Linked DNA regions of Homo sapiens. The protein of the gene in region 1 purifies or fractionates together with the protein of each later gene. This does not show direct contact. Each region holds a gene or a part of one and is shown in the gene's direction. Other genes may lie near its edges.

The links.
Region 2: the proteins of PTH2R (region 1) and ACAD10 purify together in Homo sapiens (co-immunoprecipitation; 2 studies listed by BioGRID and IntAct, with this or other methods). This does not show direct contact.
Region 3: the proteins of PTH2R (region 1) and FASTKD1 purify together in Homo sapiens (co-immunoprecipitation; 2 studies listed by BioGRID and IntAct, with this or other methods). This does not show direct contact.
Region 4: the proteins of PTH2R (region 1) and NCAM1 purify together in Homo sapiens (co-immunoprecipitation; 2 studies listed by BioGRID and IntAct, with this or other methods). This does not show direct contact.

Annotation. Positions count from the first base shown.
Region 1 is NC_000002.12:208,409,789-208,416,821, forward strand, and holds part of PTH2R (parathyroid hormone 2 receptor isoform 1 precursor), read left to right. Parts: intron 1-5,731; exon of another isoform or gene 5,732-5,798; intron 5,799-7,033. UniProt on the Homo sapiens protein: This is a specific receptor for parathyroid hormone. The activity of this receptor is mediated by G proteins which activate adenylyl cyclase. PTH2R may be responsible for PTH effects in a number of physiological systems.
Region 2 is NC_000012.12:111,752,050-111,757,629, forward strand, and holds the end of ACAD10 (acyl-CoA dehydrogenase family member 10), read left to right. Parts: intron 1-1,722; coding exon 1,723-1,866; intron 1,867-3,618; coding exon 3,619-3,696; intron 3,697-4,283; coding exon 4,284-4,424; 3' UTR 4,425-5,050; downstream 5,051-5,580.
Region 3 is NC_000002.12:169,542,849-169,549,881, reverse strand, and holds part of FASTKD1 (FAST kinase domain-containing protein 1, mitochondrial), read left to right. Parts: intron 1-3,177; coding exon 3,178-3,664; intron 3,665-5,046; coding exon 5,047-5,161; intron 5,162-7,033. UniProt on the Homo sapiens protein: Involved in the down-regulation of mitochondrial MT-ND3 mRNA levels which leads to decreased respiratory complex I abundance and activity.
Region 4 is NC_000011.10:113,272,412-113,278,961, forward strand, and holds the end of NCAM1 (neural cell adhesion molecule 1 isoform 2 precursor), read left to right. Parts: intron 1-521; coding exon of another isoform or gene 522-1,337; exon of another isoform or gene 1,338-1,490; intron 1,491-2,855; coding exon 2,856-2,976; 3' UTR 2,977-6,025; downstream 6,026-6,550.

The DNA of each region.
Region 1 (7,033 bases):
GCATTTTCTATAGTCAGATTATCACATGGTAATGAGGACCACTATATAAACATGTTCAGTATTTTCTTTACTGTGTTAGTGGATCCTCCTGGTAACAGACTGTAGGATGGAATTGGGGTGCTAGAGGTTTATTAGGGGAGGAGGTAATGCTTGTGAAAGTTGAAAGGGAGAGGGAGAAGGATTGGACAGGGGTAACCTCAGACCGGCAAGCAAATCTGACAAAATTTTTTCCAACTCAAAGGAGAACCTTGGGGGAAAGGTGCCCATCAGAGGAGTCCCATGCTGCGAAAAAATGGCCAGGTCTTAGAATTCCTACTGTTGACCTTCCAGCATGAAGATTCAGAGCCTACTAGAAAATCAGAAATCTCTTTCTAGGTGTGGAAAAATGGTAATCAGTAATGCTACTTGCCAAGTACCAAATACTGTGCTAAGTACTTGATTCTCTCATTTAATTATCACAGTAACTTTATGAGATGGGCACTGTAATTGTTCACATTTTTATAAATGAGAAAATGGGGCTATGAGATGTTAGATAATATACTCAACTCACACAAGCAGCCATGATTTATACTCTGACTTTTACCTCTGGGGCCCACCCCTCCTACTGGTACCCTCATTGTGGAGATCAGCTGGGCACTGCTTAGTGACATTATGTATACACATGTCCTCTGTCCCAGCAATCTCCGCCCCGAGTCTCTATCCCAGGGAATTTCTCACCCAGGTCTATAATGATTCTTGCAGTAATTCTGTGGTGTTAGAGAATTAGGGGCAATCTGGGTGTTTATAATGGGGTATTGTGTAGCAATAAAAAGCAATGGCTTAAATGTGCACAAATCAGCATGGACAAGATCGTAAAAACAGGATAACATGTGACAGAAACAATAGGATATATGGTATGATATCATTTACATACATTAAAATACATGCACATAAAACAGTAATATATGTTTTATGAACATATTCAGATAAAAGATTGTGTGTGTGTGTGTGTGTCTTACATAAATGCTTGTATATGGGAGGTAGAGAAGTAGGAGTGGGGTATAGACATAAAATGGGATAAATCAATAAATCAAGTAGGCCTGCACTCTGCATCTCAACGCATGTGTTAATTACAAATTGTGGTGATAATAAACAGAACTGTCAAAACTATTACTGATGGAGTTAAGAATGAGGACAGCCGGGCACAATGGCTCATGCCTGTAATCCCAGCACTTTGGGAGGCCAAGGCGGGCAGATCACTTGAGGTCAGGAGTTCGAGACCAGCCTGGCCGACATGGTGAAACACCGTCTCTACTAAAAATACAAAAATTAGCTGGGCATGGTGGCACACGTCTGTAGTTCCAGCTACTTGGGAGGCTCAGGTGGGAGGATCGCTTGAACCCTGGAGGCAGAGGTTGCAGTGAGCTGAGATCATACCAAGTCCTAGAATATAGGCAGCTTCTCCAAAGTGGAAACTAGGGACTGTCTTTGGCAGAATGAAATGGAAACTCAACATTTGATTATCTCTATACTGTGTTTATTGCCACAAACACTATTGTAGTTAAAGATAAGAGAGTTGGTTTGTTCTCATTCTTTTCTCTTGACAACGAGGACTATTTCCATTTGTCTTCTAGTTATAAGGAAGCCTTAAATCCCTGAGGAATGGGCTTCCTGGTGGCTGCATTAATTGTGAGTAGTCTCTTCAGCCCTGGTAGACCAGAGGCAGTGAGATGGAAGGGTCCCAGGTGTGGCTCTTCCTTGCCAATGCACAGAGAGTAGGTTTCATATTCCCAGAACTTCCTCAATTCTTTGTGACAAAATAAAATATTTTCAGCAGGCATTCATGCATCTCACTTATTTTCCTGTCTTGAACTTCAATTGGTTTTGTCATCTACTGGAACCCATCTTGTCCTTTCTTTCCCCTCTGTTTTGTTTTTTTCTTTTCTCTGGGTTATTCATTAAATTTTTAAACAGCCGTGTGACTTTAGTCGTTAATTTCATCTCTTGGTTGTCTCCACTGGCTCCACTGTAAAATAGGACTTACTCATAGAATAAGCATTATAGTGACATCTACTCATAGAATGTGAGTCTTGAATTAAACATATACAAACAAAAAGCTTAAAGGTGCCTGATAACAAAAGATGTCAGCTCTTTCCTCTTCTTTTATTAGCAGATGAGTTAAGTTATTTTTAATGGAATGATTACTAGATTAAGATTATTTCTAAGCATTAGTGAGAACTCCTGAAGGCTTTTAAATGGGGTGTGTATGTATGTGAGAATTTTGCGAGGCCATTTTCTCTTCCTTTTATTTCTTACGGCTTCTTCTTCAGAACCCACATTTTTTCTGATAGCAATTGGACATTTTCTTCATAACACTGATAGCTGTTATAATATTACATTTATTAATATAAGTACTTGATCAATATCTAACTTCCTCATTGCTTTTGCTCAAAATTTGTTTCCTTCTTGCTGATGGATATTACCACTTTACTTTTCCCAGTTGTTATTGTCTCCCAGGATCGCACAGCTGTGCTGCATGACAGATGTGTTGCCTAGAGGGAGTGACACTAGTTAGAAATGAATAGAACATTGGCCACTGCTGCTATTATGTGTAGATCTATAATTTGGCCTTCAGCCTGATTTTCTGTAATCTCAGATTCTCATTGCCAATTGCTGGCAGGAAACAGTCTTCTTGATGACTTGTCATGTCCAAAAACAGGTCAACACTATTTCTAGAGTGATAATCATTGGCTGATTTCATTTCCCCATGAAATGAACTCCATCACTGAGTAGAGCTGCCATAGAATAGCCTTGAAAGGCAGAGGTAGTGCTGTGTGAGGACACTGTACTGGGAGATAGGACACCTGGCTGTAGTCCACGTTTTACTATAAATTAGCTGGGTGGCCACAGATAAGTGGCAAAATTATGGGTCTCATTTTATCATGTCAAGAGTATAAGGTTTAGAGTTCCAGCATACCAGAGATTCATATTTTTTCAGGTTATCAACAGAGCTAGCTTTAAAGAGTGTTTTTACTATATACATATAACAGGGATCAAAAGCAGAAACTACCCACATTTCTATTTAGTCTTTGTCTATGTGCCTATTCAATTAATATATACTTTCAATTATGTCATAAATGAAATTTTATATATATTTTCACTTGACATTATACAATCCACTTTTTTCCATTTTCCTATGACTATTTTCCTGTCTTATGTACTCATTCTCTTTCTCTCTCACTACTGTCCCATCTCCTCTCAATCCCACTCAGATAATACTGTGTATCTTCCACCTCTTTCTCCATAATTTATTTGCTCATATAAAATATAAACACAGATGTAGTTATTTCATCTTTATTTGTTTAAAAAGTGACCACACACACACACACACACACACACACACAGAATGTTTATAAACAATGTAGAAGACTGGCAATTTGAACTCATTAAATTATATTACAAATGACAGAGAGCCACCACTTGAATCTTGAGAAAGTGATCCTCCTTTCATCTTGGAGTGTTATTATCATGGTATGTGCTCCCCATGTGATGCCACTCTAGCAATTTCAGACACAGCTACATAGAAGTCATGATTACAGAAACTCCAAGAGCCAACCTTACCAGAGACAGCATTTGACACTATCAAGTGTCACTGATGTACAGAAAGAAAAATTGGGCTTTAAGGAATGAAAGTGTAAAAATGATTCAGTGCTCAGGAACTATAAAGTGAGTTACTTCAAAATGGAATTTGAGCTCTGTTATGATTTCAATAGTGCAAGAACTACACTTAATTATTCCTGCATTAACCATTATTTTTATATTTTTGAACATTTTTAACATATGGAATGTAAAATATTGACTAAATGGAACATGTATTATTTTTACATTCTTGAAGTTTTCTATGTGTTGCTGAAAACCATTTATTTATTTGTATTACCTAATTAGCCACCTTGAATAATGTTACAACTAAAAGTGTAAGGGTTGAAGAAGGAAGAAAGAAACACAAAAAGTGGCTCAACAGTCAAAGACAGAATAAACCTGAGACGGGCTTCTGGCCAGTTTTGGTCAGGAGCATGCTCTCTTGCAGACTAAGAGTATTTAAGGGTTCAGGGTGGGAGAGCTTATCACAGGCTTGGACTGCTTCTGTGCCTCTTTGTCTTGCTTATCTGGGAGGGAGAGTTTTTGTGTTTGTTCCCGTACATCTTCCTGTAGCTGCAGGCATATCCCCCACGTCTGCTTTTAGCTTCCCTATCTTAGTGCACCTAATGGGAAAGGAATATGCTTACTAGGGCCCACTGTTTTACTGGGGCTCATTGTATGAGTGTGAAGTTTGGTGGTTACTCAAGAGACTTTCCCCCTCCTTCTGTGCCCAAGCTGTCTTATCTTTGTTTTACTGTCTGCTCTTTCTGGTTGCTTGTTTAGAAGAGAAGTGATTTCCTTGAAATGCTTGAGGTTAGAAAGGGAGCTAGAACTTAAAATGGTGGTGTTTGTCCAAGATGACAGTGCTCCTGCTCTGTCAAAAGCAACTAAAAGTGGAGTTTAATATAATAAAAGTTTAATATAAAAATATAATTTAATAAAAGTGGAGCCCATTTAATATATCTGGTGACAATAGTAGTTAATGATATTTTTGTATTCAGTCTTGTGCATGTGTAGATATAATATATCCTGCATGGTTACATTCCTCATAGTATTCCCCCAAGTTCAATAAAAGCAATAACCATTGTACTATTTCTTTTTCTGTTTATCTTTTGAGTCCTTTGTCAGCTAATGAGGATAGTGAATTTTTTTTCAGTTTTTTTTTTCTATTAGAATATCTATTAGAATAAGTAATTTTGGGTTGATACATCCTCAGTTCTCAAACTTTATTCCAAAATTTTTATCCACTAGAACAAAAATGGACAAACTATGGTCTGCTAACCAAATTCATTCCATCATCTGTTTTTCTATGCCTCATAAGCTAAGAATGATTTTCACATTTTTAAGTCATTGAATAAAAATCAGAAGAAGGATCGAGGTTAACATTAAGAGTGAAGTCATGTTGATAGCTTGCACTCTTGATAGGTGAGTGGCACTTTACCTCTGTGGTCTTCCCTTTCAAAACATATTGGCCCAGTTCCATAATGAGAAAACCATAAAAAAAAACCCAGCTGTGGAACAAAATGTCTGACTAGTGTTTCTCAAAACTATTAAGATAAATAAAAATGAGGAAAGCCTGAGAAACTATCACAACCTAGAAGAACCTAAGGAGACATGACAACTAAACATGATATGGTGTCTTGATGAGACCCCAGAACAGACAAAGGACGTTAGGTAAAAACTAAGAAAATCTGAATAAAGTATCAGCTTAGTGAATAACAATAGATCAATATTGATTCATTAATTATGACAAATATACCTACTAATCTAAGATTTTAATAAGGGGAAACTGAGTGTTTATGGGAACTCTGTACTATCTTATATAAATAAATTTTTTTTCTGTAAATCTAAAACTATTCTAAGATTTAAAACATTTAAAAGGGGATTTTATTGTATTTTAAAAGGACAATATTTTGTAAGTGTGAAGATTAAATAAAATTAAAATTTCAGTGTTCATAAAATTTTATTTGAACACAGCCACATTCATTCACCTACTACCGCTTCGCATGGCTGTTTGGTGCGTTCTGAATTGCAGTGACTCAGTCATAACTTGACATATTTCAAGTGCTACATGTATTGCTCTACATTTTCACTTTACTTTTTTCGCTACCAGGGAGAACCCATCATGTCAAAATAAGAAGAGAAAAATGGACTAAATATTCTGCTTCTAAAGGCATAGTGTATGTGGATTTTTTTGCTATCAAATAAAATGGAAAAGCATTGTGTTTATTATTCAGTGATACTACAGCTGTGCTAATATAATACAATATATGTTGTCATTCCCAGATTAAGCAATCATTACAGTATTCCCAGCTGATAGCACAGCATTCAGTCAGAAAAAATTAGAAAATTTAAGATGAGATATCACATAACTTCTTTTAAAAAATGAGGCTGCAATAAAAGTAAAGTTCAAAGTAAGGTTCTCATTTGTTAGCTAAGCGAGGAAAGCCATTTACCAATGGTGAATTAATAAATGGGTTAAATCATGTTTGATTGTAGCAGGCATGAAATGTGTCTAGAGAAAATAGCTAGTTTAAAACTACTTACCTTTTGAAAAGAATAGAGTTGAGGATGTTGTAGCAACATCAATAATCAATTAAAAAACAAAGCAAATGATTTTAAGGGGTTTTCCTTGGCCCTTGATGAGTAATATCAGTAACATTTGTTACTGATATTAATCAGTTGTTTATCTGAGGAGTCAATGCTGAGTTTGGTTTACTGAAGCGTTTGCCTTGAAAAATAGTCTGTGTGGGAGAACATTTTCAAAGAATTTGAGAAAATGACTAATTTAGTTCAACCTGAAGTGGAGTGTGCTAAGACGTGTTAAAAATGATGGTGTTAAACCTTTGTGTGGAAGACCAATCAAAAGCTCATGAAAATATAAAGCATTTAAAATCAATGGTTATTTATTGTATTATTTATCTGCAAGCACTTTGTAGGAAATATTTGAATATATCATGTGTTATTGAACCAATAATGTCAATGGCCAACTTTGTTCACCCTTACGAACTTAATTATCATCAGTTCTTTAAATTTTTGTCAGAAATAGAAGCCGCATACTTTGACTTGCCCTACTATGGCTTAGCCATGATAAAGCTTACTATGATTTTTCTGAGCTCAGGGTTAAAATGTTGAAATTAGGTGAACTACTTTTTCAAGCTATCTGCCGTTCTGTATGTGATGGTTAATACTGAGGGTCAACTTGATTGGATTGAAGTATACAAAGTATTGATCCTGTGTGTGTCTGTGAGGGTGTTTCCCAAGGAGATTAACATTTGAGTCAGTGGGCTGGGAAAGGCAGACCCACCCTTAAGCTGGGTGGTCACAATCAGCTGCCAGCATGGCTAGAATATAAACAGGTAGAAAAATGTGAAAAGAGAGACTGGCCTAGCCTCCCAGCCTACATCTTTCTCCC
Region 2 (5,580 bases), on another chromosome or scaffold:
CTCTGTCTCAAAAAAAAAAAAAAAAAGTAGCCAGGTGTGGTGGCACACATTTATAGTCCTAGCTACTCAGGAGGCTGAGGTGGGAGGATCTCCTGAGCCTGGGAGGTCGAGGCTGCAGCGACCTGTGAGTGTGCCATTGCACTGCAGCCTGGGTAACAGAGCAACACCCTGTCTGGGAAAAAAAAAAACAAACAAAAACAGGCTGTTAGCTTTGATGCAAAATAATGTTTTGTTGTTGTTGTTGTTGTTGTTGTTATTGTTTTAAGCAGGCTGGCCGGGTGCTGTGGTTCATGCCTGTAATCCCAGCACTTTGAGAGGCCAAGGCAGGCAGATCACCTGAGGTCAGGAGTTCAAGACCAGTCAGGCCAAAATTATGAAACACCCCATCTCTATTAAAAAAATACAAAAATTAGCCAGGTGTGGTGGCAGGCACCTGTAATCTCAGCTACTTGGGAGGCTGAAGCAGGAGAATCACTTGAACCCCGGGAGGCAGAGGTTGCAGTGAGCCGAGATCGCGCCACTGCACTCCAGCCTGGGCAACAAAAGCGAAACTCTGTCTCAAACAAACAAAAAGGCTACAAAACCATATATAGAGTGTGGCTCCCGTTTTTGGAAAAAATAAGTATATATAAAAAAACTATAGAAGGATAGAGGAGAATATCCACCAAATATTAACTAGTGGTGACTAGATGGTGGGATTCTAGGTGCTCTTACTGTCTTCTCTTTTTTTGTTCTGAAAACAGGTAGTTTTTCTGCCATGAGATAAATTATTTGTGTAGATTGTTTTTAGTGAAAAAAAAAAAAAAAAACTAGGCTGGGTGTGGTGGTTCATGCCTGTAATCCCAACACTTGGGGAGACCAAGGCAGGAGGATTGCCTGAGTCTAAGAGTTTGAGACCAGTCTGGGCAATGTAGTGAGACCCTGTCTCTACAAAAAATTGGAAAGTTAGCTAGATGTGGTGGTTCTTGCCTGTGGTCCCAGCTACTCAGGTGGCTGAGGTAGGAAGATTGCTTGAGCCCGGGAGGCGGAGGTTGCAGTGAGCCAAGATCACGCCACTGCACTCCAGCCTGCGCAACAAAGTGAGACCCCGTCTCCAAAAAAATAATAAAAAAAAGAAGGAAAAAGAATAAATAAAACAAGAAAAAAAAAGGAATACTTAGAACCTTTTCTGATGCCTTGTGACTTTCAGAATTTAAAATCCCCCTTGCAGATAAGGCCACCCACGGCGGAAGGCCGGGAGCGAGACGGGGCTGAGGGGACCTTGCTCCCATTGGAGCTGCAGGGCAGGAAGGGGTGCTGCGGTCAGCAGAGGGCACCCTTCGCCTGCGCCGTGTGCAGTGCCTGCAGTCACTCCCTCATTCCCAGGAGTAGCCTTGGGTCAGATGCTGGCTCAGATCTATAACTGCTCCTGTCTGGTAGCCAGGCCTGCCCAGATGTGCAATGGCTGGAATAAAGGGTTCTTGGAAGCAATTTGTTACAGGCACCCTGTGGGCTGTGGCTGGCTGTGGCACACGTGAAGGTTGTGTGTCAGACCTACTCCCTGGACATGGCGCATGGCTGCACACAGGCACCTTGGCTGAGAAGATGCACAGTCCTGGTTTCACTCTCCTCCCCTGCCCTGTCCTGTCTGCTTCCACCCAGCTCTGCAGGCCACCAGCCCCCGCCTCTCGTGGCCACCCCCAGCCCAGCATGTCCTCAGCCGCACATCTCCTGTGTCGACAGGTGAAGTCCCGCTTGGCTTTTGGGAAGCCCCTGGTGGAGCAGGGCACAGTGCTGGCGGACATCGCGCAGTCGCGCGTGGAGATTGAGCAGGCACGGCTGCTGGTGCTGAGAGCTGCCCACCTCATGGACCTGGCAGGAAACAAGGTAGGGGCAGGGGCACGAGGGGGCCTCCCAGAGGCAGAGATTCTTCCTCCTCACTCAGCAAAGCATGAGAGCCTGGCTTCTTGACATTAGAAACTTTATTTCACCTCTACTTGGAGCTGTTTGGGCAGTTTTTCAAAAATTGGAAAGGCACAAGAAGAGAGGACTGGCCTTTGTGTTTTACTGACCTGGTGAGCTGCTTAGTCCAAGGCAGTGGGTCTGATGGGGCCACAGGGCCCCTGGGTGGCCCTGGACTCCCAGGGCCATTGGTGGAGGTGTTGGGCAACCTAAGAGTAAGGCAGGGAAAAGGGACCCTCTGCTGGCCTTCATCTGAATATTGAATTAACAAAAATAGAAGCTTATTTTCAAGTGTGACATTAGTCATTCACTAAGGCTCTTTTTAACCTTTTATTTATTTATTTTTTGAGACAGGGCCTTGCTCTGTAGCCAGGCTAGAATGCAGTGGTACATCATGGCTCACTGAAGCCTCAGCCTCCCAAGTAGCTGGGACTCCAGGCGCAAACCTCCATGCCCAGCTAATTCTTTATTTTTTGTAGAGACCGGCTCTCACCATGTTGCCCAGGCTAACTAAGGCTCTTTCTAAGTGCCTGTGATGACCAAGCACAATGCCATGTTGACCTTGCTTTGTCCAGCTTTCTGTGGGGCAGCCTCCAACCCCACCCAAGACCCTCAACCATCAGGGACCAACCCATGCTCATGCTCACAGTTCCTGGTTCTTTGACGCTGGCGTGCTAGATATGGTGGAGGCTGCTGGGTGTCTCCCTTGAACACCCTGCCCCAGGGCAGATCACTGTAGCTCGGTTTCCCAGAGCCCTGAGTGGCCTTGGTCCACTGCTGCTTGGAGGCAGAGCTGGCCGTGACCCTGAGCAAAGCACAGGACCCTCCCCTTATCCCTTCAGTGTGTGCTGGCTGTGTTCCCCGTCATCTGGGAAGACAGCCACATTCTGCCAGCACTTGCTTCGCATCTTGTGACATAAGATAATAGTTGCCAACATGGCGCCCTTCATCCCTGGGTGCTGTCAAGCCGTACACCAGGCAGGGGCAGCCTCACCCAGCTCACATCAGCGAGACCTTGGGGCCTCTGTTTTGGACGGTGGTGTTTGACTTCTTGCTGGGAATCTGATCATTCTTCCAGGCTTTCTGCCTTCGGGTCTTTTTTGTGGTTTAGTTTTTCGTTTTGTTTTTGAGAGACAGAGTCTCACTCGGTGGCCCAGGCTGGAGTAGAGTGGCACAATCTTGGCTCACTGCAACCTCCGCCTCCCGGGTTCAAGCAGCTCTCTTGCCTCAGTTTCCCAAGTAGCTGGGACTACAGGTGTGCACCATCACGCCCAGCTAATTTTTGTATTTTTTAGTAGAGACTGGGTTTCACTATATGTTGGCCAGGTTGGTCTCAAACTCCTGACCTCAGGTGATCTGCCCGCCTCGGCCTCCCAAAGTGCTGGAATCACAGGCCTGAACCACCGCGCCTGGCCTGTTGTTTGTTTTTGAGAGGGGGTCTCACTCTGTTGTCCAGGCTTGAGTGCAGTGTTGCAATCTCAGCTTACCACAGCCCCCAACTTCCCAGACTCAAACAATCCTCTCACCTCAGCCTCCTGAGTAGCTGGGACTACAAGCACATGCTACCACACCCTGCTAGTTTTTGTATTTTTAGTAGAGATGGGGGACGGGGGGGCCTCACTCTGCCACCCAGGCTGCCCTCGGGTCTTTTATGATCGCATCTCCTCCTCCTTACAGGCTGCAGCCTTGGATATAGCCATGATTAAAATGGTCGCCCCGTCCATGGCCTCCCGAGTGATTGATCGTGCGATTCAGGTGAGCACAGACCAGACAGTTGGCTTATTTGAACCATCAATACTAGATGCCAAACTCTCCTATCTTCAGCCGCCCAGCCTCCCATAGACCCTGGCAGATGCCCTGTGTCACCCACTCACCATGCATGCAACTTTCCTTTTCCTCTTCAGAATGACCCAGCAAGGTGGGAGGTGCCATCGTACCCCCATTTTGAATGTGAGGAAACAGGCACAGAAAAGTGAAGTGACTTGTCCAGGTCACTGAGCTTGCAAGTAGCTGACCTCAAATTCACATGAACTTGGGTTTTCATAAGCCCAGAGCCCAGGCTCTTTCCCATGCAGGGGGGCCGCCTCCTTAGATCCTAACCCCCGGCCCCAGCACAGGGCAGAAGGCACCTGCAGAGTGGGCCTGGGGAGTCTGGAGGCCGTGGGATGGCAGGTGTGGCCCCATGGAAGCCCTCTGGAATATTAGTGATTGTATCACATAGGTGCCACAGGGAAGTCCGGGAAGATGGTTGTTATGGGCCATCAAGAGCAGGCTATCATTCCTGGGGCTCTCGGAGACAAGGGCTGACCCAGGGCCGCCTCCCTCCACTCTGTGTCTGCCAGGCCTTTGGAGCAGCAGGCCTGAGCAGCGACTACCCACTGGCTCAGTTCTTCACCTGGGCCCGAGCCCTGCGCTTTGCCGACGGCCCTGACGAGGTGCACCGGGCCACGGTGGCCAAGCTAGAGCTGAAGCACCGCATTTAGAGCCTTGGGGCTGCAGTGGCTCAATGTCCTGGCTGGTCCAGCTGTGCCCAGATCTGTCACTGATGTGCCTCGAAAGATCCGGTGTTTGTGGCTCCTGCACCCTGCTCAGCAGCTCTGTCCCGGGACAGTCAGGGTGGACTCAATCTTTCTGGTTCTCCACAGAAGACGTCTCTGCAAGAAGCCTGGAGTCTGTTTCAGGCCAGGAGGAGGGGATTTGCTGAGGGCCAAGGGGGTTCTGGGACAGAGTCTGGAAAGCTGGTCTTCAGGCTCTCAGTCCCAGGCTGGGCAGGCACGGTCACTTCACTTCAGCCTTTCAGTCCCTCTCTCTCTGCCTGTGGGAATCTGGACACATTTTGGGAGGCCTCCCAAGGCTGTGGGACGTGCTTGCTCTGGCAGCTGCAGGGTTCCTGTCTGGCCTCCCTGGTGAGCAGAGGGGCGGCCACGGCGGGCGGTGGCCTAGAGACCCAGGACCTGGGCGCCTGGGAAAATGGAATGCAACCCACATTGTAAAGCCACTGGCATCTGATTATCTCCATTTGAACACACAGCACAGAACAATCATTTAAATGTTATTTTGGAAAGGGGTTTTGGGGACACAGAAGAATAAGTAAACACATCTCGGAGGCTTTGTGGACTTTCTGTGTCATACAAAGAGAATCGAGTGGAGAGGTTCCCTTCAGCGCCTTCATGCCTCCTCCTGCCTGTGTTTCCTCGAGGTCCAGGCCATCATCTCAGCCCCATACATGCTGGGAGCACAGAGGCCACGGGTCCGATAAGTCCCGAGTTGGCTGCCTTCCCTCACTATGTAGCCCGGGGCTCTGTGCTCATACATACTTTACCCAGGAGCTGGCATGTGAGGCCCCTGCAGCCTCCACCTGCTCCATAGTCAGAATATCTGGGCGAAGGGGAGGTGGTGGCCCATTCGCCATTACACTTTGGAGCACAATCTCTCTTCTCTGAGGAGAGTGGAAATGCTTACTCACTTGCAGTCTGAGCTCCTTGAGAAACCCAGCGACATGCAGAGGTGAGCCAGGGGCAGTGAGGCCCCAGCCTGCTCGTCTCATAACTCGTGGTGGGGTAGCCAAAACTCGTCTCAGGTTAGACCAGACGGGCAGGAACCATCCCCCCCGGCTGCCACCTTGCAGAGGTGACCCTG
Region 3 (7,033 bases), about 39 Mb from region 1:
ACCAACTTTTTAAGTTTACTAATAGTGAATGAGAATGCCTGTATCAGTACACCCTTGCTAACACTGAGTATTAATATTACGATTATTTTAGTATGCTAATTTAAATATTTTAAATGGCCAGGCATAGTGGCTCATGCTTGTAATCCCAGGACTTTGGGAGACTGAGCTGGGAGGATTGTTTGAGCCCAGGAGTTCAAGACCAGCCTGGGCAATAAAGCAAGACCCTGTCTCCACAACAAAAAACAAAAAATTAGCTGGGCGTGGTGGCATGTACCTATATCCCCAGTGTGTAGAGAGGCTGAGGCAGGAGGAGTACTTGAGCCCAGGAGGTCAAGGCTGCAATGAGCTATATTACGCCACTGCCCTCTAGCCTGGGCAACAGAGTGAGACCCTGTCTCCAGAAAAAAATTAATTTAAAAAATATTTTAAAAGTAACTCAATGTATTTATTTATTTATTTTTATTTTTAATTTTTTTTTGAGATGGAGTTTCGCTCTTGTTGCCCAGGCTGGAGTGCAGTGGCACAATCTCGGCTCACCGCAACCTCCGCCTCCCAGGTTCAACCGATTCTCCTGCCTCAGCCGCCCGAGTAGCTGGGATTACAGCGCATTACATGCGCCACCCCACCTGGCTAACTTTTTTGTATTTTTAGTAGAGACGGGGTTTTTCCATGTTGGTTAGGCTGGTCTCGAACTCCCGACCTCAGGTAATCCGCCCACCTCGGCCTCCCAAAGGGATGGGATTACAGGCGTGAGCCACCACGCCCAGCTATTTATTTAATTTTTTGAGATGGAGTCTCGCTCTGTCGCCCAGGCTGGAGTGCAGTGGTGCCATCTCGGCTCACTGCAAGCTCCGCCTCCCGGGTTCACGCCATTCTCCTGTCTCAGCCTCCTGAGTAGCTGGGACTACAGGCACCCACCACCATGCCCGGCTAACTCTTTTTTGTATTTTTAGTAGAGACGGTGTTTCACCATGTTAGCCAGAATGGTCTCGATCTCCTGACCTCGTGATCTGCCCGCCTTGGCCTCCCAAAGTGCTGGGATTACAGGAGTGAGCTACCGCGCCCAGCCTCAATTTTGTTTTAATTTAGATTGTATTATTCCTTCCACTACTTCTATACCTAAAGTTTTTTTTTTTTTTTTTTTTTTTTTGAGGCGGAGTCTTGCTCTGTCACCCAGGCTGGAGTGCAGTGGCGTGATCTCGGCTCACTGCAACCTCCGCCTCCCGGGTTCAAGCGATTCTCATGCCTTAGCCTCCCCAGTAGCTAGGATTACAGGCATGTGCCACCACGCCCGGCTAATTTTTTGTATTTTCAGTAGAGATGGGGTTTCATTATGTTGGCCAGGCTAGTCTCGAACTTCTGAGCTCAAGCTATCCCCCGCCTTGGCCTCTCAAAATGCTGGAATTAAAGGTGTGAGCCACCATGCCCGGCCCCAGTTTTTCAATTTTTTTTTTTTTTTTTAACAATTATTGTCCTGGTGGTGGGACTCTTGCCATGGGGATTTCGGAATGAAGTAGAGAATGAGGTCAACTATGTCCTGTTTCTTTTGTTGTTGTTTGTTTATTCATTTGTTTTAAATGTTGGACTGTGTATCGGAAACAAAAAAGGAACCAATTTTATTACGTGATCACTGCATGCCAGGGCCTGACAGGTGATATCAGAAATTGAACCCAAGTTCTTTCTTCAGCGACAGCACTGGAAACATTGTTCTGACATGGACCTTTTGTTTCCCTGGGACTGTGGTTTTATTTTTGAATAAAAAATTTTGGCCTGTGCTTCAGAACAGGTCTTCCTGTTTTATTCCTTTATTCCTTCCACTATTTCTATACTTAAAGATTTTTTTTTCTTTTCTTTTCTTTTTGTTTTTGTTTTGTTTTTTTTTTTTTGAGACGGAGGGCATCAGGAAGTCTTAGGCTTTCCTGAATAATCCTTTATGGACCTGTCATCTTTGAATTTATCAAACTCTTTTTTTTTTTTTTTTTTTTTTTTTTTTTTTTGAGATGGAGTCTTCCTCTGTCGCCCAGGCTGGAGTGCAGTGGCACGATCTTGGCTCACTGCAACCTCCACCTCCCTGGTTCAAGAGATTCCCCTGCCTCAACCTCCTGAGTAGCTGGGATTACAGGTGCACATCACCATGCCTGGCTAAGCTAATTTTTTTGTGTTTTTAGTAGAGACAGCGTTTCACCATGTTGGCCAGACTGGTCTCGAACCCCTGTCCTTGGCCTCCCAAAGTGCTGGGATTACAGACATGAGCCACCGTGCCTGGCCTATCTAACTCTTCTTAAATTAACTTGTATTATGCCCACCTGTGATGTTATATATATTGGCTTTTGTCCTAGTTACTAGTTCATAACTTCTATAGCTCTTGCTATAGCCTTTTGTTAACAATGTTGGGTATGTTAGGCCTCTGGAAAGAGAATCTCTCTCCTGCCCCAAAGCAGGACTCTAATCTCCCTCCACCTTTCTGATCGTGGGTCTTAAGACGCTCCCCTGAGAGATCCCACCCTACACCCTGTGTGAGGAAATGTTGATGTCACGAAGCTCATAAAAACCCAAGAAGACTGGGTTTGGACTGCTTCCGGATAGCCGAACACGTGGAGGTTCCTGGAGGGTGGCATGGTCAGGGAGGGCATGGAAGCTCTGCACCCCTTCCCGCATACCTCACCCTACTGTCCCTTCATCTGCATTCTTTATAATATCATTTATAATAAACCTGTAAACATAAACAACTGCTTCCCTGAGTTCTGTGAATCACTCCAGCAAATTAATCAAACCCAAAGAGGAGGTCATGGGAAACCCAACTTGAAGCCGGTTGCTCAGAAGTTCTGGAGGCCTACTTTTGCAAGTGGAGTCTGGGGTTTTTGTGGGAGAGGTTAGTCTTAGAGACCAAGTTCCCAACCTGTGGGATCTGACACTGTCCCCAGGTAGATTGTGTCAGAACTGAATTGGACACCCAGTTGGTATCCGCTGCTTGGAAGAACTCCCACACATTTGGTCACAGAAGTCTTCTGTGGTTGATGATTGTTGTGGTTTGAGATTAGAGGAGAAACATAGTTTGAAAGAGGTTTTTTTGAATCATCATCTTACCTATTAATTGTACTCATATGTATTCATATTTTAATACATATATATTTTGGGTTTGTTGCTGATGTATTCTTTTCATTTTTCATTTTGCAGTTATTTGAAAAATAGTTTCATACCAACTGAGGTGTCTGTTCTGGTCCGTGCTATTTCCCTGCTCCCTTCTCCTCACTTGGACGAAGTGGGGATATCCCGAATTGAAGCCGTTTTACCACAGTGTGACCTAAATAACCTGAGTAGTTTTGCCACATCTGTTTTAAGATGGATTCAGCATGATCACATGTATTTGGATAATATGACTGCGAAACAACTGAAACTACTTCAAAAATTAGATCACTATGGTCGTCAGAGACTACAACACAGCAACAGTTTGGATCTGTTACGGAAGGAACTTAAATCTCTCAAAGGAAACACGTTTCCTGAGTCACTTCTTGAAGAAATGATTGCTACTTTACAGCATTTCATGGATGATATTAATTACATAAATGTTGGGGAGATTGCATCTTTTATTTCTAGTACTGATTACCTCAGTACTTTGCTACTAGATAGGATAGCCTCAGTGGCTGTTCAGCAGATTGAAAAGGTGAAATTTAAATGGTAGACATTAATTTTATAGAGTTGTCAACTTCTGCAAGCATAATTTTTATCATAGGCACTTTGAGAACTTGGATTGGAATTTGAGGTTTAAAAATTAAATAAATTCTGGGTCAGATGTGGTAGCTCAAGCCTGTAATTCCAGCGGTTGGGAGGCTGAGGTGGGAGGATTGGTTGAGCCCAGGAATTAAGGCTCAGTGAGCTATGATTGCACCACTGCACTCCAGCCTGTGTGACAGAGTGAGACCCTGTCTCTTAAGAAAAACAAAGAAAACTCTGGTTTCTATTTCAGCGATTTGTTGTTCCTCTCCTTAAAGTCACTTTCTCATTCCGGCATTGTAGATTTGGAAAGATCAGCAATCATTCTTTGGTTCATTACAGTATTAAGATTAGTAATCAATTCTTTGAGGATACTCATGTTAGGACAGTGGAGTATGAATGATTTTTGGTTTTACTTTTTCTTATTTCTGTAATCGTGTGGTATTATTTTTACCATTTAAAAACAATTATATTCAAAAGTGTGAGATAAGCTTGAAAACTGAGAAAATTATAAGGTATCCATTGGCAACTATATTCTTAAACTGTCATTGCATCTTCTTGCAGATTTATTTCTGGGACTTGTAAAATGCCGCTTTATGGATTATGTGAGAAGCAGCTCACTTACAAAATCACTATCATAAATATATCAGGGCAAGGCCTTTATTTAAAAGACAGTGTTTCTCACAAATGAAAATAAAAAGTTTGTCTTAACTTGCTTAGTATAGTGCCTGGAAGTCATTAAGTATTGGATGAATGAGTGAAAAATGAAATAAAAAAGCAAATGAAAGAAAAATAAATGCTAGTGATTATAATTTAAGAAACTTCTTTAATTATGATTATTCTATAAAATGTACTGATTATCATGGAAATTGCTGATACTGTTTCCTATTCAATTTAGTGACTAATGAATTCTGAAACAGAATTTATTTACTTATTTTAAATTTAAATAAAGACAGGGTCTCACTATGTTGCCCTGACTAATCTCGAACTCCTGGCCTCAAGCAATCCTCCCACCTCAGCCATCCAAAGTGTTGGGATGACAGGCATGAGCCACCACTCCCAGCCAGAACAGAATTTTACACCTAACAAAATAAATTTGTAAATTATCTGATTTACTTCTTTTTTGTTACATTAACACTTTTGGGGTTATTAATAATGTTGGTGGGGTTAAATAAATTATAGCAGGATGGAAAAATTAATAAGCAGGGTGATACATTTATTATTTAACTGTAGCGATGATAGGAAAAGATTTCTCCTAAAAAATAATTAGGTTAAAATTTTGTCTTATTTTCCTAAAGTTTAAACTATAAATTTTTTGTTCTTTTTATACAGATCCATCCTTTTACAATCCCTGCTATTATTCGTCCATTCAGCGTATTGAACTATGATCCACCTCAAAGGGATGAATTTTTGGGAACTTGCGTGCAACATCTTAATTCTTACTTAGGTAGGTATATTGTTTGGTAATACATTGAGTGAATAAGTCAGAGGATACTTGTTGCTGCTGAGCTAGGAGATGTCCCTCATTTAAAGGGTAACCATAATAGACATGAATTATCTACCTAAAAAAAGGTTTTTTGTTTGTTTGTTTGTTTTTGAGACAGAGTCTTGCTCTGTCGCCCAGGCTGGAGTGTAGTGGTGCGATCTTGGCTCATTGCAACCTCTGTCTCCTGGGTTCAAGTGATTCTCCTGCCTCAGTCACCCCAGTAGCTTGGACTATAAGCATGTGCCACCACACCCGGCTAATTTTTTGCATTTTTAGTACAGACAGGGTTTCACCATGTTGGCCAGGGTGGTCAGGAACTCCTGACCTCAGGTGATCCACCCGCCAAGGCTTCCCAAAGTGTTGGGATTACAGGTGTGAGCCACTGCGCCCGGCCCTATAAAAACTTTGTATCCATTTTAATTATGAAAAATGTCAAACTTGTATAAAGAATTAAACAAAGAACACATATATACTCACCGTGTAGATTCAATAATGTTAACATTTTACAGTGTTTGCCTTATCCGTTTGTTTCTCTGACTCTCTTATTTTTTTCTGAGCCATTTCAAAGTTGTAGTCATTGTGACCCTCCATCCCTAATTACTTTAGCATACATCTCCTAAGAATAATGACATTCTTCTGTACCACCACAATACTGTTGCCACACCTAAGAAACTTAATCATAGTCCCCTAATATCTAATACACAGTTCATGTTTCAGTCTCCCTAAGTGTTACCAAAATACATTTTAGAGTAGTTGTTTTGCACCCAGTATTCACTCATTGTGTTTGGTTGTTATCTCTTCAGTCTCTTATAGTTTAGAATTTTGTTTCCTTTTTTTCTTTTCTTGGCATTGACTTGGTTTTTTTTTTTCTTAACTTTTTGTTATCCAGGTTTTCAAATATACAGAAAAATTGAACAATACAACAAACATCTGTATAATAATAAACTGTATAATAATGAACTGTAGCCCCACAGTCGTGATTGAGTATTGATTAACATTTGCCACATTTGCTCTGTGTATGTGCACAAGCGCGTATGCGTATGATGAACCTTCCAGTTGTCAGCTCTGTGTACTTCAGGTTATAAGGACGTTCTCCTATGTAACTACAATACTGGTATCATTACCAGTACCAAAGAAAATGAACAAGTACCATCTACTACCTAGTCCGTAATCAAATTTTCCCGAGTCACCAAATTATCTTTTATAACTTTTTTTTTTGAGACAGAGTTTTGCTCTTGTTGCCCAGGCTGGAGTGTAATGGCACAATCTCGGCTCACTGCAACCTCCGCCTCCCAGGTTCAAGCGATTCTCCTGCCTCAGTCTCCCGAGTAGCTGGGATTACAGGCATGCGCCACTACGCCCAGCTAATTTTGTATTTTTAGTAGAGACGGGGTTTCTCCATGTTGGTCAGGCTGGTCTCGAACTCCCGACTTTAGGTGATCCACCCACCTCAGCCTCCCAAAGTGCTGGGATTACAGATGTGAGCCACCGTGCCTGGCTATAACTTTTTTTTAAACAACCAGCATTGAGTAGTTATGTCTTTTCCTCCATCTTTTTTGCTTGATATTTATTTTTATAAAATGATTGGCCATTTCTTATAAATTGTGCCACATTCTGGATTTGTCTGATTGTTTTCCTGTAACTTGCTTCTCCATCTCCTGCATTTGTAGTAAACTAGAAATTAGGTATAGATGCTTGGTTAGGTTCAGATTAAACATTTGCAGCAAAAATAACTTGTATGTAGTGCTGTATACCTTATATTTAGATCACATCTGGAGGCACATAATGTCTGATTGTTTCTGTCTATTTAGATTTTGGTTTTCTTTTTGAGAC
Region 4 (6,550 bases), on another chromosome or scaffold:
CTGTGACTGGAAGAACCCACAGCTCCTATGAGCCATTCTGAGTACTCGTGATCTGCCTTATTCGTGACTTTTCCCATCGGTGCCCTGGGGAGCCCTGCAGGACAGCTGGGCCCAGTTCCTCTGGGACCTGGGAAGCCTAGAGCAGGTGGATGCTGAACAGAAGCCTGCCCCTCCTTGAATGGAGATCCAGGGCAGGGATCAGGAAGCCCTAGGCAGGTCTGCAAGGACTTCAGGGAAAGGGAGCTCTATGCAGAGAGCTGGAGAGACATCAGCAGGGAAGGGCTAGCAGGTCCCTTTTGAGACCGCCACGTTCTCTGTCGTCTCCTGTGTCCTCTTCTGCCCACCTGGGCGTGTGCTTCCTCTCAGCATCCTTCTCTCTCTGTGGGCCTGTGTCCGTGCCTGTGCCTAACTGCATGCCCCCACCCCCATGGTCCCTGTCCTGGGCTTCAGCCCTCCTCCTCGCTTCTCTGTCACGTCTCAGCTTCATTGTCTATTCTCTTCTACTTCCTGTCCTCCCACAGGCTGCCTGCCGACACTACGGCCACTGTCGAGGACATGCTGCCTTCTGTCACCACCGTCACCACTAACTCTGACACTATCACCGAAACCTTTGCCACTGCTCAGAACAGCCCCACCAGTGAGACCACCACCCTGACCTCCAGTATTGCCCCGCCGGCCACGGCCACGCCTGACTCAAACTCTGTACCGGCTGGCCAGGCCACCCCTTCCAAGGGGCCCAGCGCCTCTGCCCCCTCCCCGGCCCCAGCTTCAGCCCCCAAGGTCGCCCCCCTCGTTGACCTGAGCGACACCCCGACCTCAACCCCTGCCGCTAGCAATTTGTCTTCTAGTGTCCTGGCTAACCAAGGGGCTGTCCTCAGCCCAAGCGCCCCTGCTGGTGTCGGGGAGGCCTCTAAGGCTCCTCCGGCCAGCAAGCCCACCCCTGCACCAGTCCCCACCCCGACTGGGGCAGCCAGTCCTCTAGCAGCAGCGGCTGCCCCTGCCACAGAAGCCCCTCAGGCCAAGCAGGAGGCTCCCAGCACCAAAGGCCCGGACCCGGAGCCCACCCAGCCCGGAGCCGCGAAGAGCCCGGCCGAGGCAGCCACAGCCCTTGCTAGCCCGAAGAGCGAGGCTGCCTCCGTCAGCACCACAAACCCTTCCCAGGGCGAGGACTTTAAAATGGACGAAGGGAACTTCAAGACCCCAGATATTGACCTTGCAAAGGATGTTTTTGCAGCCCTGGGCTCTCCTGCTCCCGCCGCTGGGGCCAGTGGACAAGCCCCTGAGCTTGCTCCTTCCACTGCAGACAGCTCTGTTTCGCCTGCGCCAGCAAAGACCGAGTACGGCCTCTCTTTGTCTGCTGTCATCGGGTTGTGTCCTGTGGTGGTGTGCATTTGTGCTGTGCTGTGTCCTCCTTGTTAGATGTGTCTTCAGCCTCATCCAGGGCTTCTCTGAGGCGACCGTCAACCAAGGGGCTGGGATAAGGCAGAGAGAGCAGGACAGGCAGCTGGGCCCCAGGAGCAGCCGCCTGCTGGCTAATTAGGCCATGTTAATTATGTTTTATCCTTATCATCCTAGCAGCGGCTTCTGTTTTCCCTGGGGGAGCCCTTGCAGTCAGGCCACTGATGAGAATAGCTTGGGAAGCAGGCTAAGAAGGCCAAGGTGCCCTTATCAGCCACCCTGGGGCCCCCAGTCGGTGTGTTATTCAGTGCCAGGCTGAGTCCCTACCAGAAAGGCACTGATGTGCAGGAAGAAAAGAGGTAGGCCCCAGGCCCGTGGCAGGGGAGGGTGCAGTTCAGAGGTCCCCTCACACTGTGGCTCAGATGCTCACCCTCCCCTCCCAACCCCGGCCCCCAGCCCACTCTTGCTTCTCCTGCTCTTAGAGTGGCTGGGAAGACTCGGGGCTCCCCAGCATCAAATGGCTGCTGGGTCTCAAAGTTCAAGAGAAAGGCCTTAACCTTTCAGGTTTGTAAGTGTCTTGCCAAAATTCAGTGGCACCAGCTGAGGCTGGGGTCTGTGCCTGTCCCCATGCATCCTCAGACCCGACTCCCTTTCCTGGAACTGATGGAGGCAGAGTCAGACCTAGATTTTTATAGAGGCTCCTATGGCTGCTCCCCAGATAAGCTGCCATGCTGCCACCATGGGCTGCAAGGGGCTCTCGCCAGGAGCCCTGAATCTCAGCATCGGGAGGGAAAAGGACTCTGATAGCCCTGCCCACTCAGCTGCCCTCAACTCTCGCATAGCCACCAGGCCCACTCTAGTACCCCACCAGGCTGCCATGAAAAGCTGCCTCCATCAGTGTTTTCTCACCCTACCCAGGCAGGCCCTAGAGGCATCATCCTGCAACAGCACAGGGTGGGGTGGGGAAGGGACAGGCAAGAGTGGGTTGCAAAGGGGCCCCTGAAATCAGTGCTGGGAGCCCAGCCCAGCCCAGCAGGCTGCATTTACATCCAGCTGAGCTGTTGCCACTGCAGCTGGTCAGGGTGAGGAGGAGCTGCCTCTGCTGCCCCCTTCCACCACCCCAGGTAAAAACACAGCCTCTGGCATCAACTTAGGGCTGGAAGAGGAAAGGACTCGTTCTTCTGACTCAGTGCTTCTCAACTATGGCTGCACATTAGAGTCACTTGGGTGCTTTTAAAAGTCACTGTGTCCGGACCAATTAAATCAGGATTTCCGCGAACACAGCTCGGGCTTGGGTGATTTTTAGTGCTCCCAGGTGATTTGACGGGCAGAGGTTGGAGCCGGGTGCTGTCACTGGAGAACCCCTCCTCCTCCCTGCTGTCCCCAAGGCCTGGATGCAGGGGCGAGATGTCTGCAGACCGTGGTCTCAGTGGTTCTGTTTTCCTGATTCTCTGCAGGAAGGGCCCCGTAGAAGCAAAGCCAGAGTGCCAGGAGACAGAAACGAAGCCAGCGCCAGCCGAAGTCAAGACGGTCCCCAATGACGCCACACAGACAAAGGAGAACGAGAGCAAAGCATGATGGGTGAAGAGAACCGAGCAAAGATCAAAATAAAAAGTGACACAGCAGCTTCACCAGAGCATTTCCAACACCACAGACACACACACGCACGCACACACACAAACACACATGCACACACACACATCTCATTTCTCTAGTGTCTTTTGCCTTTAAAAAAAACTAAACAGATAAAACATGGGAATCTCCTTTTTGTAGGTTTATAGAAAGGGTCCCTTTGTTGCACACTCACTTGTAAGAAAATGAGACAAAAAGGTTAAACCCACAGCCAAACTAGGACACTCCGTTCCCTGAAACCGTTAAAAAATCAAACAAAAGGACCCCAAATTAAGAATCTAGGAAGCTCAGAAACGAAATCTAGGTTCAGGAAGACCACACTTGGTGTTACCCGATTGGCACAGACCAGTTTCAGAGAAATACTTTCAGGCACTAAGACTAATCGAATGAACAAAGTCCACAGTTTATTTTTATACTTTCAGTCAAGTTTGAACTCTGTAAAACCTCATAAATAAGTTATAATTTCTGTTCACTTTGTATTTGTTCAGTATGCAAAGTGTGTCACCCTTTCTAGCTGAATTCAATTCCCACGTAGACTCTTATTTTATAGGACGAATGCCAAATTGCAGCTTCTGGGGGTAGATCTCAATTTGCAGTATTCAGACTTCTTTTTCTTTCTTTTACATTCTTTTTTCTTTCTTTCTTTCTGCCAACTTTGTTTTCCAGTGTTTACAAGGTGACAAATGTTTGACTTTGGTTGTGTTTAAATGTCCGTGTAAAATAGCTGCCTTTTATTTTTTAAGGTAACAAATACCACCTAGAGGTAGGTAGGATCATCCCACGCTTGCTTTAGCACAGGACAACTTTACAAAACATGATTGTTTACAGCTGCTCTTCCCCTCTTTTCTGATCTGCAGTTTTTGCCTGGGTCCCACTCAGGTGAAAATCCATCTCATTCTGGAATGGTTTTGCTTTTGAATTTTTGGTTATTTTTGTGTTTCTTTGGGGGTTAGACCACTTTCTGATTAGCCGCCACCTGCCTGCATCTGTGAAAAGGGATCTGCTCCCAGGCGTTCTCACCCTTCTTTTGAAGGACTCCTTAGGCTTTGTTGAATGAAGCAGAGAAGATTGTATAGTTGGGGCTGGTCTTGGTGAACACACATTATTACCCCACACATCCCCTTTGTGTAGAAAGCCAAATAAAATCTATACATACCATTTCCTTTTGAGCCCAGAATCTAGATTTGAGCGGAAGAGCATGTGTGCTTCAGGGAATTAGTGTCTTTTTTTGGAAATCTGTTGAAGTAAAGTAACATCGGCCTTCTGTTCACTTAGGCAGCATTTATAGAAACAAAAGAAGAAAGAAACAACCTACTGTCTGGAGTCATAACACAACTTTCCTGGATTGGAAACCAAGTGGGGGAAAAAATACAGAAACTTTAAGGGGGATGGGAGGGGGGGGAGAAGGGAAAAGCCAGCCCTTTGTATAGAAATTTTGCTTTTTTTTCCCTCATTCTACTTTAGAACTGCAAGCTTGTGCACTGTGGATGCGTGAATATTTTAGTGTGAAACGTGTTTTTGTCATAGTATTGAAATAAAACTTCAACATAGTTTGGTTGTGGAAGGTATAGCAGATAGTTCAGAAAAAATATTCAGGAAACAAAAATCACTCAAACGGAATCGAAGCCTTTTAACAAAGAAAATGAAATACAGATGATGATGATGATGATGAAGATGATGCTAAGTAAACAGAAATCAGTACTCCGCATGCGCTCCTCTCCTAAGGTACAAAGCAGCAAGAGGTTAGGGTGGCAAGGCTGCCTCTGGGTCCATTCTGTGGGCCACTCTCCCCAACGTTCTGACACTTCTGCAGTCTGATCAGTGGCGATGCTAGATTATAATTTCAAACTGTGAAGAATAATGGTCTTGTCATTTGCTCAATGTGGGGTTATGTTGCATTTTCTCAGCTCCTGGGGATGGAAATGGAGGATCCCAGAACACACAGCCCTGGCCCCTTTGATTCTAGGGCCTGCACAGATCTCTGGTTCAAATGCACAGGCCCTCAGAATAGAGGAACATGAAGAGAGATCTTAGAGCACACAGTAGAATGTGAGAGCCTGGGTGTCTGAGACCGGGAGGGCCCAGCAGTGAGGGGCAGGCTCTTCTGGTCACCAGGCTGTTCAGTGGACTCAGTTCTTCATCTTGTAATGTCGATGGCTTTGCCACACCAGGCCAAGCCCATGCCATACCTTGTCAAGACTGTCAAAGTGGTTGTGGTTAGGTCAAACTGGTTTTGGTTCTGATGGTTAGGAAGAAACAGGTCAGCCCTCAGATCACCTGGCCCGGGACAGCTGACCCCCTAGAACCCTGGCTCTGCCATTAGCTAGGACCTAAGACTCTGCCCACATTTTGGTCTGTTCTCTCCCATTACACATAGGTTTGTCTCAGCATGCAAGAGTTTTTCCTTTAAAAAAAAAAAAAAAAAAAAAAAAAAAGCAATGCTTTCTCTAAAATCAAAGAGGGAGTCATTTTATTCCAAGATGTTTTATCTTTTATGTTAAGAGATCAAAGCTTATAATTTTCTTTTTTAATTTTTGAAGGAGGGATCAACTCCAGTTTCCAATGTCTATGTGTCTATGTGTGTATGTGCCATACATATGTATTCACATGAAGACCGGCATGGCCAAGTTCTGCTGGAGGAGCACTCAAGTGTGACGAGCAGGGCCACTGGACCCTGCAGGGCTGTGGTGTATATAGTGCAGCTTTGGAGGTGGAACTCTATTTTCACACTTTTCTATGGAGCCTTCCGAGTCCCAGGTTTTCACTTGAGGCTGTCTGTCTGGATGGCGGTTTTCAGACCTCCATTAACATCCCTACCCAGCATTCTGTACTTCGGGGGCCTTCTCTCTTGTTATAAAACTTTTTACCAAGTGAAACATCGATACCACCTTTGTTTCCATTCTCACTGGTGTAAATACTGAGTACTAACTGAGAATTTTGACTTTGCATTCTGTCGGAATACTTGTGTTCAATAAAAATTGAAAGAAAAAAGCTATTATGATCATACTGGGGTTTATTTCAATGCGGTGAGAGTCTGTTATGTGCATCAAATGTGGACATGCGTGTGGTAGTTCCTTTAGGACCTTGTGTGCGAGGAAGGTTAGCGAAGTCTCAGTGTCTTGAGTTCATGTGTTGCCTGAATGATGCTTTCTGTATTTTTTCTCACAGGCTGATAGATGAGAGTCCTAATTTAGAAGGGGCAGACGTCAGATTCAGAAAGGTTTCCTTCGAACTCTGGTTCTGCCGCTCCCCGGTTGACCTTGAAAGAGTTGCTTAATCTCCCCAAGATTCAGTTTCCTTTTCTGACATACAGGAAATACCAAGAAAAGAGAGTTAGTTAGGGTGCTGGTTGATGAATGAAACAATGTACATGAAGGCCTAGTGTCTTCTTTCTTGGCACACAGTGGGAACTCAATCAGCGGGAGTTGGCGCTGTTGGCATCCTGGGTGTGCGATACCATCAGACCTAATCGTAGTAATAGTCAACACCTGAGCTTCAAGATTTCAGCAATAAGGTAATG